Homo sapiens: one gene and its partners. The protein of the gene in region 3 purifies or fractionates together with the protein of the main gene of each other region. This does not show direct contact. Each region holds a gene or a part of one and is shown on either strand. Other genes may lie near its edges.

The links.
Region 1: the proteins of GMEB1 (region 3) and CASP9 purify together in Homo sapiens (affinity purification with western blotting; one study listed by BioGRID). This does not show direct contact.
Region 2: the proteins of GMEB1 (region 3) and USP40 purify together in Homo sapiens (affinity purification with western blotting; one study listed by BioGRID). This does not show direct contact.

The regions. Positions count from the first base shown.
Region 1 is NC_000001.11:15,514,204-15,518,559, forward strand, and holds part of CASP9 (caspase-9 isoform alpha precursor), read right to left. Parts: intron 4,193-4,356; coding exon 3,907-4,192; intron 1-3,906. UniProt on the Homo sapiens protein: Involved in the activation cascade of caspases responsible for apoptosis execution. Binding of caspase-9 to Apaf-1 leads to activation of the protease which then cleaves and activates effector caspases caspase-3 (CASP3) or caspase-7 (CASP7).
Region 2 is NC_000002.12:233,486,771-233,491,126, forward strand, and holds part of USP40 (ubiquitin carboxyl-terminal hydrolase 40), read right to left. Parts: intron 4,302-4,356; coding exon of another isoform or gene 4,262-4,301; intron 3,129-4,261; exon of another isoform or gene 2,892-3,128; intron 2,714-2,891; coding exon 2,595-2,713; intron 1,535-2,594; coding exon 1,469-1,534; intron 1,247-1,468; coding exon of another isoform or gene 994-1,246; exon of another isoform or gene 911-993; intron 1-910. UniProt on the Homo sapiens protein: May be catalytically inactive.
Region 3 is NC_000001.11:28,666,476-28,672,281, forward strand, and holds the start of GMEB1 (glucocorticoid modulatory element-binding protein 1), read left to right. Parts: upstream 1-2,308; 5' UTR 2,309-2,364; intron 2,365-2,742; exon of another isoform or gene 2,743-4,720; intron 4,721-5,806. UniProt on the Homo sapiens protein: Trans-acting factor that binds to glucocorticoid modulatory elements (GME) present in the TAT (tyrosine aminotransferase) promoter and increases sensitivity to low concentrations of glucocorticoids. Also binds to the transferrin receptor promoter.

The DNA.
Region 1 (4,356 bases), about 13 Mb from region 3:
CCTCAGCTATAACAACCAGATTTGTCTCTAGACATTGTCAAATGTCCCTTGGAGGTCGGGGAAAAATCGTCCCCAGTGTGAAACACTGACCTACAGCATCCTTTCCTGTATTCACTTATTAAAGGCTCTGCTGCTGGCCCTATTCTTGCTCAGCCAGACCTTCCCATACATATGAATACACAGCTCTTCCTTTGTGGGTCACCATGAAACCTACCTTGGGAAACATTCCCATGCAGTACTCTGGAGTCTAAGGCCCAGCATCTAAAAAGGACATCTCTCAGCAGCTCATGGAAAATGGGACAGTCGCTCTATTAAGCCAGAAGACCTAGGCCCAAGTCCTAGCTCTGTACTGGAACTCACTTTGTGACTGTTGCTCTCAGAACCCAGTTTCCTCCCCTGTAAGTAGCATATAATGACAGACGGGCTTGCCATGTCTACCACGGCACAGGGTGGTTTTGATGACCTGAAAAAACACTGTGTATACTACAAAGTGATATTCACATTATTTAAAGTGATCTTGGGCCAGCCGTGCTGGCTCATACCTATAATCCCAGCACTTTGGGAGGCTGAGGCGGGTTTATCACTTGAGGTCAGGAGTTCAAGACCAGCCTGGCCAACATGGGGAAACCTTGTCTCTATCAAAAAATACAAAAACTAGCCAGGCATGGTGGTGCACCTGTAGTCCCAGCTACTTGGGAGGCTGAGGTGAGAGAATTGTTTGAACCTGGGAGGCAGAGGTTGCAGTGAGCCGAAAACACACCACCGCACTCCACCCTGGGTGACAGAGTAAGACCCTATCTCAAAAAATAATAATAATAAAGTAAAAAAAATTAAGTGATCTTACTATTGCTGTTGTTATTTACCCTTCAGAATTAAGCTCCTACTAGGAATAAATATTCACAAGAAACAGGAAATAAAACACCTTCCAAAAAAACAGGAAGTTTCAAATTCTGACTGTTGGTCCTAAATGACTCACGTTGACATTTCCCAGAACCAAATAACAACAGATGAGCTTTGTATTCTGCCTGCCTCCTTTACAGGATGGTAATGCACATGGCCAATTCCAGAACCAGTCTTCTTCCTTACACTTCAAGCAAATGCAGCTTCCTACCCTTATCATGTTTGTCTGTTTCTCTGCTTTAGTGGATTGCCCAAAAATCACCATTATGCAGCAAGTACTCAATAATGTTCACCATTACTATTATGAATATTAACTCTGATACCATGCAATGGTCCACCAGGCACCCATGAAACAGGAAGTGCTAGAGCTCCACACGCTGCCATGGGAACAAAGCCCCAACTGAAAACAACCCACATGTCCATCAATAGGAAAATGGTTAAATAAATTGTGGATTATTCAGAACAGGAACTGCTGCCATCTAGAAATTAAAAAGAATGAACTACTGATATGCACAACAATATGAATGAGTTTTGGTGAATTTTTGTTGAAAGAAAACAGCACTTTTTACCCATCACACAGGAAAAAATGTCAATATTCACTGTTGGCAAGAATGTGGGAAAGTGGTCACCTTCACTCGCAGTTGGTGAGATTATAAAATGACACAATTTGGGCCGAGTGCAGTGGCTCACACCTGTAATTCCAGCACTTTGGGAGGCCGAGGTGGGCAGACTACTGGAGCACAGGAGTTTGAGGGCAGCCTGGGCAACACGGTAAGACCCTATCTCTACAAAAAATTTTAAAATTGGCCAGGCATGGGCTGGGAGTGGTGGCTCACACCTTTAATCCCAGCACTTTGGGAGGCTGAGGCAGGTGGATCACTTGAGGCCAGGAGTTCAAGATCAGCCTAGGCAACATGGTGAAACCCCATCTCTACTAAAAATACAAAAATTAGCCAGGCATGGTGGCGGCTGCCTGTAGTCCCAGCTACTCAGGAGGCTGAGGCAGGATAATTGCTTGAACCCAGGAGGTGGAGGTTGCAGTGAGCTGAGATTGCGCCACTGCACTCCAGCCTGGGTGACAGAGCGAGACTCCCTCTTAAAAAAAAAAAAAAAAAATGGCCAGGGATAACATGCACAGCTATCCAGGAGGCCGAGATGGGAGGATTGCTTGAGCCCAGGAGATCAAGACCAGCCTGGGCCACATGGTGAGACCCTGTCTCTACAAAAAATACAAAAAAATTAGCCAGGCCTGGTGGCGCACACAGCTACCTGGGAGGCTGAGTGGGAGGATCGCTTGAGCCTGGGAGTTCAAGGATGCAGTGAGCCGTGATCATGCCACTGCACTCCAGCCTGGGCCACAGAAGACCTTGCCTCAATTAAAAAAAAAAAAAAGACACAATTTTTCAATTTCTTTTTTCTTAGAGATAGGATCTCACTAAGTTACCCAGGCTGGCTGTGAATTCCTAGGCTCATGTAGTCCTCCTGCCTCAGCCTCTCAAGTAGCTTGTCCTACAGGCTCACACCACCACACCTGGCTAAAATGACATATTTTTGAAGTATAAGTTGGTAGCATCTATCGGACAGGAACAAGTACCCTTTAACACACAATTCCATTTCTAGAAATATCCTGCAGTCAGAACTAGACGCACATGCAAGGCTAACTGCAGAAACAACACAATGTCCACCAGCATGAGTCGGATCAATGAGGTGTGTCCCACAAAGCACACATGGGGCTACCCTGCAGAGCAGACAGAACAGGTAAGCCCGGGCTGCAGCCCTGTCTCCACTCCTCACTAGCTGTGTGATTTGGCACAAGTCATCTCCCAATCTGTGGCTCACTTTTTCTAACAGCAAAGCACCTGCCTTACAAGAGAGATGGAGAGATTAAATTAGATCATTTATGTAAGCACTCCGAACGGTGCCTGGCAAATAGCAATTACTCAATAATGTTCACCATTACTATTATGATTATTAACTTTGATACCATGCAATGGTCCACCAGACACCCATGAAACAGGAAGTGCTAGAGCTCCACACGCTGCCATGGGAACAAAGCCCCAACTGAAAACAACCCACATGTCCATCAGTAGGAAAATGGTTAAATAAACTGTGGATTATTCAGAATGCCATGTAGAAATTAAAAAGAATGAACTACCGATATGTACAACAATATGAATGAATTTCAAAGATACAATGATGAATGAAAGAAGCCAGGCTCAAGAGCATATAAGACTATATAGGATTTATATTGAAGTTTAAGGACAAGCAAAAGGGATCTCTGGCGATAGAGATGAGAACGGTGATTACCTTGGGAAAGGGAAAGTGGGAAGAAATGGAAAGAGAGTCAACGGTCTTACAGGACCCCGGAATGTTTTCATCTTGATGATATGGGTGTTAGTTACCTGTGGGTATGCATAGGTAAAAATCACCCAGCTTACTCTTGGGATTTATGCATTTTGTTGGATGTAGCCGTGTGACCTTTGGCAAAGTGTTTAATTTCCGTGAGCTTCAGTCAGTTTCTCCATCAACAAGGATGGGTCTAATGATACCTGCCTTGCAAGGTTGCTATAAACGAAGAAGGTAAGGGTAAATACTTTGCAGATGTCTGTTTGTATGGGGCAGATACAACTGAGGCCTGTCTCCTGCCCCCAGACATGAGGTAGTCCAGGCTACCCACCCAGACTGAAAGGCAAATCCAAAACAATAGATGGCTCTGGAAACATTGATCAAAACCTGGGGCCTGCTATCTCAAAGGCAGGAAAAAAAACAAAAACAAAAACAAAAAACCTGGGACATCCAAAACAGACCTCAACACATGCTTTTCAGAGGAGGGGCTGCCAAGATTCAACCTCCTGAAAACCTCCCAGAATTTTGCCATCCCTATGAACATTCAGAAAGACAATGCTAAAATTAAATTCTGAATCTCAGCCCACCCAGCTGTACTCATAGTGAGTCCCAAATGACTACGTGTCATGCCCACCCACCAATCACTCTCTTGCTACTTACCGACATCACCAAATCCTCCAGAACCAATGTCCACTGGTCTGGGTGTTTCCGGTCTGAGAACCTCTGGTTTGCGAATCTCTGGTCTGAGCACCACTGGGGTAAGGTTTTCTAGGGTTGGCTTCGACAACTTTGCTGCTTGCCTGTTAGTTCGCAGAAACGAAGCCAGCATGTCCTGGCCTGTGTCCTCTAAGCAGGAGATGAACAAAGGAAGAGCCTGACTCCCTCGAGTCTCCAGATCTATGATCAGCTGCCTGGCCTGATCCCGCCGAGATCCAGAGCCTGCCCGCTGTTTGGAAAGAAAGGCAGGATACTAATTATCCACGTACTTTTATATGGCTCTCACCTTGTCTCCCCATTTCCCAGCTACTGTAAGTCTAAACAATCAGGCACGTGGGCAGCAATGGAGCTGCAGGTGCACTGTGTGCCATTTACCAGCCTTTGCTGATCTGT
Region 2 (4,356 bases), on a different chromosome or scaffold from region 3:
AGTGCAGAGTGCAAGAGCAGAGGCTGCACAGCCCCATGTCCCCATGGGGGAGGGGGCTGCTGGCCAGGGAGTGAGGCCAAGGCCTGGAGCCCAGCACAGTGCGGCCAGAGGACAGAAAGGGCATCGGCACAGATGCTGAAGTTGCCAAGGAGGGGACAGAGGCTGCTGGAGAGAAACAGGAGGGACTAGAGGCCTCCTTGAGAGCAGGAGTGCCCTGGAAGTTGGTCAAGGACAGAAAAGCCCATGGAAGGGGCCTGAGGAGGCACACAGCTGCTCTTCAAAAGGGCAAAAGGCACTGTGCCTATCAAAACCTGACACAGCTTACAACCATTGTGACAAAGGGTCAAAATCATAAAGAGCTCACACAAATTCCAAGAGAGCTTTTCCTTTAGACTTCATTACAGAAGCAGTCAAAATACACGAAATAACTCAATCATGCACTCACAAAATACAGTTTGCAAAAATGCCTGAACTTATTAGTCATCAAAGCACTGGAGAATATGAGAACAAGATAATCATCTTTCATTTATCAATTTAGGAAATACCTAGACGATGAAATAGTCAATGCTGGTTTGTGGGTGAGGTAAAATAAATACTCATATTCTGGAACAACTTGCCTGAAGAAATATTTAACTATTTTAAGAGGTTTAAAATGTCCACACCATTTGATCCTGGAATTCCCCTCCAGGAAACTATTTCTGGTTGTACAACTTGTATTAAGAATGTGTTTTTATAAAAACACTAAAATTAAATACATGTTAGACATGGTTGAAAGATAACTTTCTCATATAACAAGCAGACCACAAGAAGGATACTCATATCATAATAGGTAGAGCAAATCTTAATAGTTCATGATATTTACAAAAGGACTTGTAAAATATTTTCCTACAGCGAAAAAAGAACAAGATGGTTTGATTGTAGACAATTTTGGGTGTATCTTTATTTAATAAATAATTATTGACTATGACATGGGCACAATTACTATTCTAGGTATTAAGGATATAGCAATGAATAAACCAAGTACTTATATTCTAGTAGTGGGAGACAGATACTAACAAATAAATCAGTAAGTACAGATATGTCAGGTGATACTAGGATGAAGAAAGTAGAATAAGGGGGCAGAGCGACGGGAGCAATGATGAATCCGTTGGATGGCAGACTGTCCGAACACACTGACAACAGCTGCGGGTGGGCCTCTTGCTGACACTTCAGGGCCATCATGGGGTCAATATGCACCTGGTGATTACTGAAAAATTAATTCTCCCTTACTGTTTTTATGGGAGAATAAGTCCCAAGTTTTAGATGCCCAGACATACAAACATATTTCTAGCACACACTCTGTTTCAAGTTGCTAGGCTACTTAGAAGCAGTGAAAAAAATGCTACACTATGAAGTTGTTAAAGCTTCAAAAGGCAAACGAGGTTAAGATACGTGTGTGTCACTTCAGATGCACAGGAGAATTTCTTACCCCAAGTTTTCGCCTTTCTGAAGGGGCTCTAAGCAGATCTCAATTCTCCGTCCTAGTTTATATTCCCTGATAATAAGTGAAACAAGATAATATTGAGTGACATAACATTTAATTTTCTTGAATTTTTTTTCCCCCAATTTTAAGCTTTTTTCTTAAGCAAAGAATTGTTTTCTGAGTACTTATAAGAACACCCAAACTTTTGGAAAAGGGGAAAAAATGAGAATCCTTGCTGCGGTGATTATTTAGATACTTGAGTCATTTCTTACTAAACATGTAGGTCTGGCTCTGGGAAGATGGCCAAACTGCCAAAGAAATTTCCCTCTGTTCAGCCGGGGTTAAGATTCTCATGCCAGTCACTTTGGGGTGGTAATCAGAACCGATTAAAAGCAGCCTTGGCCAGGCACAGTGGCTCACGCCAGTAACCCAGCACTTTGGGAGGCCAAGGTGGAAGGATTGCTTGAGGCTAGGAGTTCGCGACCAGACTGGGCAACATAGGGAGACCTCGTCAAAACAAAAAATTAGCCTGGTGTCGTGGCACATGCCTGAGGTCCCAGCTACACAGGAGGCTGAGGTGGGAGGATCACTTGAGCCCAGGAGGTTGAGGCTGTAGTTGAGCCATGATCACGCCACTGCACTCCAGCCTGGGCGACAGAGCCAGACCCTGTCTATTAAGAAAAGAAAGAAAAGGAAAGAAAGGAAAGAAAGAAAAGAAAGAAACGAGAAAGAAAGAAACAAAAAGCCTCAAGGCTGCTTTTTGCAAAGGAAATGACCCAAACCTGCTCTTTAAGTTCAAAGTTTCAGGAGGAGGATCAGCTGAATCCAACATTTCTGAGTGAGAAACAGCCACTCCTACTTTCCATCTCACTCCAAATGCTTTTAAGTTATATAATGTCACAGTCACTGGAGCACAGAAAAAATATACAACACTACATTTATACTTAACATGGAAAACTGAAGGCCTGCTGGAGTTTATGATGAAAAGTGTCACCCAAGTCACAAGCGTGGCATGACCAGGAATGGGCTTTGTTGTCACTCAGCTCAGAAGACTGATTCCTCCTCCATCCCTCACACCAGCCAGTGCGTCAGCAGCAGAGAGGGACAGTGTTGCGTCCAGCAAGGAACCTACCTGAGTGGCTGCCGGTCAGTTCGTAAAAGCCTGCCTGGGCGCTTCCTCTCCACCGTCCAGGCTCTGAGGTGGGCTGGGGACGGGACACCGAACTCCAGGAAAGGAGGCAAGGTCATGGCCTAGAAAAAGAAACAGACATTTCTCCAACGGTTTTAAAAAGCACTCTTCAAAACATACTGTTTTAGAAAAAAAAAATGAAGCACTACACAGTGGCATCTCAAGGAAAGAGTATCTCAAGTAATGATAACATCATTTTAAAAGTCACAGGAATCTCTCTCTCTCTTAAATAACACTAACCCTGAGCGGTCTTCATATTCCTCTGCACTGAAATCACCTTGAGAAAGAAGTGAGTTCCCTCTCTCTAAATCTGAGTCAAAAGCTTCTTTTTAATCATCATGTTTAAAAAATGAAACTTTGGAATTAACTTCCATGGGAGTAGAATTCACCAGGGCAGAGCCCGCTCTAACAGTACAACAAGGGACACAACAGCAGCCTTCTTCCGTGCCCGCGCAATCCTCCACCAGTGTCTGCTCTGCCGATGAATCAGCTTTTGATTCTGAAGTATTTCAAAATCTTTGGCTGCAATCAGTAGGCCCAAACTGCTTGTTCTAATTCTGAAGGGATCACTTTAAGCCCCTACTGATATACTTAGGTTGGAGCCTCTAAAATTACCAATATTCATCCATTTTTTGACCTAAAAACAGCAATTTTATATCTTTCAACTTAATATGAGAAAAAAAAAGTATTTTCCCATTTGTTCTCATGAGAATAAGGCTGTCTGCTTTTTCTTTTCTCCTTTTTTTTTTTTTTTTTTTTTGAGACGGAGTCTCACTCTGTCACCCAGCCTGAAGTGCAGTGGCGCAATCTCAGCTCATTGCAACCTCCCTGTCCTGGGTTCAAGTGATTCTCCTGCCTCAGCCTCCGAGTAGCTGGGATTACAGGTGCCTGCCACCGTGCCAGGTGAATTTTTTTTTTTTTTGTACTTTTAGCAGAGACAGGGTTTTACCATGTTGGCCAGGTTGGTCCCAAACTCCTGACCTCAAGTGATCCGCCTGCCTCAGACTCCTAAAGTGCTGGGATTATAGGCATGAGCCACCACACCCAGCCAACATATGCTTTTTCTTGAGGAAGGGTATTTCATATACTGAGGGCGCACAAAAGCCAAACATCAACAACCACTAGTCATATATAGGCCCCACATTTTCTCCTCTAAGAGAAGAAAGGAATGCTCATTTCAGTCCAACAGTAGGCGGATGCTGCTTCAACACTGCATTGTGCTTAATCCAGCCCTTCCATTTGGATAAAACCCTCCTTCTCTGTGAACGTTAATGCATAAGAAACAACACAATACCTAGAATATCTAGTTTAGCATCCTAACATAAAAGCTGGAGTTCTAACCTCCTGGAAAACTGGTAACACAGCTTTTCATAACAACATTTAACATATGGGTCACAATGGTACACAAACAATGTAAATAAAGGGATAAAGTGAATGCTTTACAAATGTTCCAAGAAACCATGTTTCCCTAAAAAAATAAAAATGAACAAAAGCCGCAAGTCACTGAGGATAGATTGAAACAAAAGCACAGCATGCCTGTCAGAGGAGGGACCAGTGAGGCCACGAGGAGCCGTCTGCACCATGGGCGTGTATTGCCTGCGGGTACTTACCACTGAACATGGCATATGACAAATGCCATATCAGAACAGACTGTAATTGAGGGAAAAGGAGATAGAAGAATATATTAATATCTCACTGGAAGAAG
Region 3 (5,806 bases):
AAAAATTGGCTGGGCGCGATGGCTCATGCCTGTAATCCCAGCACTTTGGGAGGCCAAGGCAGCAGATCATGAGGTCAAGAGATCGAGATCATCCTGGCCAACACGGTGAAACCCCGTCTCTACTAAAAATACAAAAAATTAACCAGGCGTGGTGGCTCGTGCTTGTAGTCCCAGCTACTCGGGAGGCTGAGGCAGGAGAATCGCTTTAACCTGGGAGGCAGCCAAGATCGCACCACTGCACAGACCGAGACTCCGTCTCCAAATCAATCAATCAATAAACAAACAATTATGGTGGCTCACACCTGTAATCCCAGCACTTTGGGAGGCCAAGGCAGGAGGATTGCTTGAGCCCAGGAGTTAGAGACCAGAGTGGGCAACATGGTAAAACCCCATTTCTACTAAAAATGTAAAAATTAGCCAGGCATGGTGGTTCCTGCTTGTGGTCCCAGCTACTCCGGGGGCTGAGGCAGGAGGACTGCTTGAGCACTGGAGGCTGGGGCTGCAGTGAGCCGAGATCCCGCCACTGCACTCAGCCTGGGAGATCAACCCAGACCGGTCCCCCCCACCAAAAAAAAGAAAAAAAGAAAGAAAAGAAAAGAAGGGCCGGGCGCGGTGGCTCACGCCTGTAATTCAACACTTTGGGAGGCTGAGGCGGACGGATCACAAGGTCAGGAGATCGAGACCATCCTAGCTAAGACGGTGAAACCCTGTCTCTACTAAAAAATACAAAAAAATTAGCCAGGCGTAGTGGCGGACGCCTGTAGTCCTAGCTACTGAGGAGACTGAGGCAGGAGAATGGTGTGAACCCAGGAGGCGGAGCTTGCAGTGAGCCGAGATTGCGCCACTGCACTCCGGCCTGGGCGACAGAGCAAGACTCCGTCTCAAAAAAAAAAAAAAAGAGAAACTTACTTAGTAGGGTTGCTGTGAGGATTATACAAGACAGAAGCATCTTCACCAAGCCATAGGCCATAGAAAGGTCTTTTTGTTTGTTTGTTTTTTGAGATAGAGTCTCACTCTGTTGCCCAGGCTGGAGTGCAATGGCCTGATCTCGGCTCACTGCAACCTCCGCCTCCCGGGTTCAAGTGATTCTCCTGGCTCAGCCTTCTGAGTAGCTGGGACTAGAGGCGCGTGCCACGACGCCCGGCTAATTTCTGTATTTTTAGTAGAGACGGGGTTTCACCATGTTGCCCAGGCTGGTCTCGAACTCCTGGTCTCAAGTGATCTGTCCGCCTCGGCTTCCCAAAGTGTGGGATTACAGGCGTAAGCCACCACACCTGGCCATAGAAAGGTCTTAATACGGCCGGGCGCGGTGGCTCACGCCTGTAATCCCAGCTCTTTGGGAGGCCCAGGCGGGTGGATCATGAGGTCAGATATTGAGACCATCCTGGCCAACATGGTGAAATCCTGTCTTTACTAAAATACAAAAAAAAAAAAAAATTGCCGGGCGTGGTGTCGCGCGCCTCTAGTGCCAGCTCTTCGGGAGGCTGAGGCCGGAGAATCACTTGAACCCAGGAGGCTGAAGCTGCAGTGAGCCGAGATCGCGCCACTGCACTCCAGCCTGGCCAAAGAGCAAGACTCTGTCTAAAAAAATAAATAAATAAATAAAAAATAAAGGTCTTAATACTTGTTAATTACTATTACTGACCCCAGGAACTCTCTGAAGCACTTTTCATGCAGGTATCACCTTCTTTAGCACTCACATTATGTCTTATCGGAAACAGGTTTAGAGCTGTCAAGAAATTCCTCCAGAGTCGTTTACACTTCCAGCAGGGGAGTCAAGACTTCAACCCAGAAACTCACAAGCAGGAAAAACTTGGCAAACAGGCACGGGTCAGACAATGCTTAGGGCTTGCTCAAGGACTCGTGACCAGTTACTGATCTATGCAGATCTTCTGATTGCAAACTGATAGCTGGATTGTAACTTGAAGGGTCCGATAAGATGTAAACTTCATAAAACAGGATTTGGGGAGGTAAATGGAGTAGAGTCCTCCAGAGGAGTCGAGAAAGCTAGCTTGGCCCTCAATTGTGGTTGAGGTGATTCTTTCATTTAGGGCCTATTTTCCTCATCTATGAGTGCGGGAAGGAGAGTTACTGGGGTCTCTAGCGACCTTTCCAACACTGATTTTCAAGGGCGAAAGAATTCTGCTTAGGTAAGGCCCAAATCCCTTGGCTAAGGTTAATCCTCGGTGGGACCGGCAATAGGGACGCGTCCCCTTTAAGGCGCCAGCTCTCCGGCGGCGGCGGCCGGAAGTGTTGAAGCCCGGCCTGGCGGCGGCGGTGGCGGTAGCTGCCGTGGCGGCCTCTGCGCATGCTCCGTCGCCTGCCCGCCCTGGCCGCTCGCCGCCCGCCCGCCCGACGGAGACGGTGAGGAGGGGGAGGGGTGGGCGCGCGGGCGCGGGGTGGGGTGGGGGCGGGGGGGCGGGCGCGGGGGCCGCGCGGCGGCCGGCGAGGGCGGGCGGGCGCGCAGGGGGCGGGGGGCTGCTGCCTCCGCGGGCGCCTCCCCACGCCCTGTGCGTGCCGCCGCCGCCGCCGGGGAGCGAGCGGACGTCGCGGCGCCGCGGGGGGGTGGGGGGACGCTGCCGCTGGGTCCGCCCGAGCCGCCGGGCCGCCCCCAGCGCAGCCGGCCGCGCCGCCGGGGCTCGGGCCCCAGACCAGGGCGGCGGGAACCGGCGAGTCCACCACTGGGGGGGCCCCGGCGCCCCCGGACCGAGGGGCCCGGAAGTACTCGGCTCAGGGGCCAGGAGGGGCCGGAGTGACTCCGGACTGAGAGGGCCAGGCGCCCAGGACCCCATCGAGGGGTCCGGGGAGCCTGGGGTATCCCCAAAGGCGGGGTCCGGGGAGCACCGGGCCCTTGGATGAGGAGCTGGTTGGAGGCCTGGGTCCTGCCCAGTGGGAGGGGGACGATAGGTGCTGGAAGCCCGGATGCCCGCCTGGGAGGAGACCCTCTCGGAGCCTTGGCGGGAGAGCAAGAGTACAGAGTGGGTTCTTCTGAGGAGAGCAGAGTCCAGCTTATCCCGAGGGGCGCGGTAGAGGCCTCGGCCACTCAGAACAAGGGAAAAAAGGGCAGGTTTTTTCCAAAGGCAGGGAAGGAAGAGGAGCTCTAAGGGGAAGTGAGCAGGCCCAGGTCTCCCCACAGATGAGCGCGTGGTAGGAAGACTCCTAGAGCCTCCTGAAGTACGAAAGAGCAGCGTCCAAACCTGAGGGGATGGAAGGTGTCTAGGTGCCTCTTGATGTCTAGGTGGAGAACAAAGTAACCCGCTCGGTCAGGGGATGGAGAAACCTATCTTTTTGAGAGAAGCAGAGATCGTTGAGGAAAGATGCTTAAGGTGTTCCCGCTTTCTGAAATGACAGGAATTGGCCAGGTGTTATCTAATTGAGGGGCAGGAGAGATGAAGGCAAAATCTCAACCCGAGGGTCTTTGGAGGATGATCCACAAGACAAGAGGGTGAAGTCTTGACCTAGACAGCAGAGCAGGCGCAGCCCTGGATTCTCTCAAGATGAGAGAAATCTCAAAACCACTTCCTAGTAGACACAGATGGGGCCTTGATTGGTGTCTGTTTAGGCCAATCAAGACGGGTTTTAGGAAAAGAGACTGTCAGACATAATTCTAGTCTTGAGGGATTATCTTCTTCCTCCTTGCCTCTTCTAATAGTTACCAAAGTGCATTTGGGGACCCTTTTTATTTATTTATTTATTTATTTGTTTTTTGAGACGGAGTCTCACTCTATCGCCCAGGCTGGAGTGGTGGCTCACTGCAACTTCCGCCTCCTGGGTTCAAACGATTCTCCTGCCTCAGCCTCCCGAGTAGCTGGGACTACAGGCGCGTGCCACCACACCAGCCAATTTTGTTGTTGTTGTTGTTGTTGTTTGAGACGGAGTTTCACTCCTGTTGCCCAGACTGGAGTGCAATGGCGCGATCTCAGCTCACTGCAACCTCCGCCTCTTGGGTTCAAGCGATTCTCCTGCCTCACCCTCCCGAGTAGCTGGGGCTACAGGCGCCCGCCACCACACCCAGCTAATTTTTGTATTTTTAATAGAGACGGGGTTTCACCATGTTGGCCAGGCTGGTCTCGAACTCCCAACCTCAGGTGATCCCACATCCTCAGCCTCCCAGAGTACTGGGATTACAGGCGTGAATCACTGCGCCTGGCCCAACCAGGCTAATTTTTTTGTGTTTTTAGTAGAGACGGGGTTTCACCATGTTAGCCAGGATGGTTTCGATCTCCTGACCTTGTGATTCGCCCGCGTTGGCCTCCTAAAGTGCTGGTATTACAGGCGTGAGCCACTGCGCCCGGCGGGGGAAACTTATTCAATGGTTGCACCGTCTCCTAATTTGAGAGCCTTATATCAAGGATGTATATTTAATATCTTACTTAAATGATTTTTTTTGGGTTCCTATTTACTTCAGCAAATACATTGTATAGGTAGCTTCTACTCAGCTTCATTGGGTTTATTGTGGGGGCAGTATTTTGGTCTTGCCCTAAGCCAAAGTCCACCGGACTGTAGCGGGATGACTCCAAATAACTCTTATCCCATCGCTCCCTCAAACATCTACATAATAGTCTCCAGTCTGTGACTTAGAATTTCACCTCCTCTGGATACTTCCCTCAGTGTTTCTGCATAATTTACTTGTTGACCTCATTACATCTTGTAGCACTATGGATCACCCACTGAATGCATGAGAAGAAATAAAGGGGATATCAAGGAGTTTTGGCCTCAAGTAATAATAAAGTTTTAACTTGGATTTTTCCCCCCGTTTTAAACAAAACTGTAGTTTAGAGTGGAAATTTCTTTTTTATTTTATTTTTTTGGGGGAACAGAGTTTCCCTCTGTTGCCCAGGTGAGAGTGCATTGCGGGATCTCAGCTCACTGCAAACTCGATCCTCTCAGCTCAGCCTCCTGAGTAGCTGGGACTACAGGTGCGTGGCACTGCGCCCGCCTAATTTTGTTAGTTTTCTGGCGGGCGCTGTGATTTATGCCTGTAATGCCAGCACTGTGGGAGGCCGAGACAGGCGGCCTCCCAAAGTGAGCGGCCTCCTCGGCCTCTCTTTAGCTCGAGTTCCAGACCAGCTTGGGCAACATGGTGAAACCCCGTCTCTACAAAAAATGACAAAAATTAGATGGGCGTGGTGGAGCTAGTTGCCTGTGGTCCCAGCTACTCTGGAGGCTTAAGTGGGAGGATCGCTTGAGCTCCGGAAGTCGAGGTTGCAGTGAGCCGAGAGCGCACCACTGCTCTCCGGCCTGGGTGACAGAGTGAGACTATGTCTCACTAAAAAATAAATAAATAAATATATAAAAAATAAAACGACTACACAGTCTTCAAAAGTTATAATAGAGTGTGGAATAAATAAATATTTTGGGCTGGGCGCGGTAGCTCACGCCTGTAATCCCAGCACTTTGGGAGGTGGAGGCGGGCGGATCACCTGAGGTCAGGAGTTTGAGACCCACCTGGCCAACATGGTGAAACCCTGTCTCTACTAAAAAATACAAAAATTAGCTGGGCGTGGTGGCAGATGCTTGTAATCCCAGCTCCTTGGGAGGCAGGAGAATTGCTTGAACTTGGGAGGCGGAAGTTGCAGTGAGCCGAGACCGTGCCATTGCACTCCAGCCTGGGCAACAAGAGAGAAACTCCGTCTCAAAAAAAAAATTAAATAAATATTTTGGGGTTAGAAAATTTCAGAAAATCTCGTACTCATTTTTACTTTTTTTTTTAACTTTTATTTTTATTTATTTATTTATTTATTTATTTATTTATTTATTTTTGAGACGGAGTCTCACTCTGTCGCCCAGGCTGGAGTGCAATGGC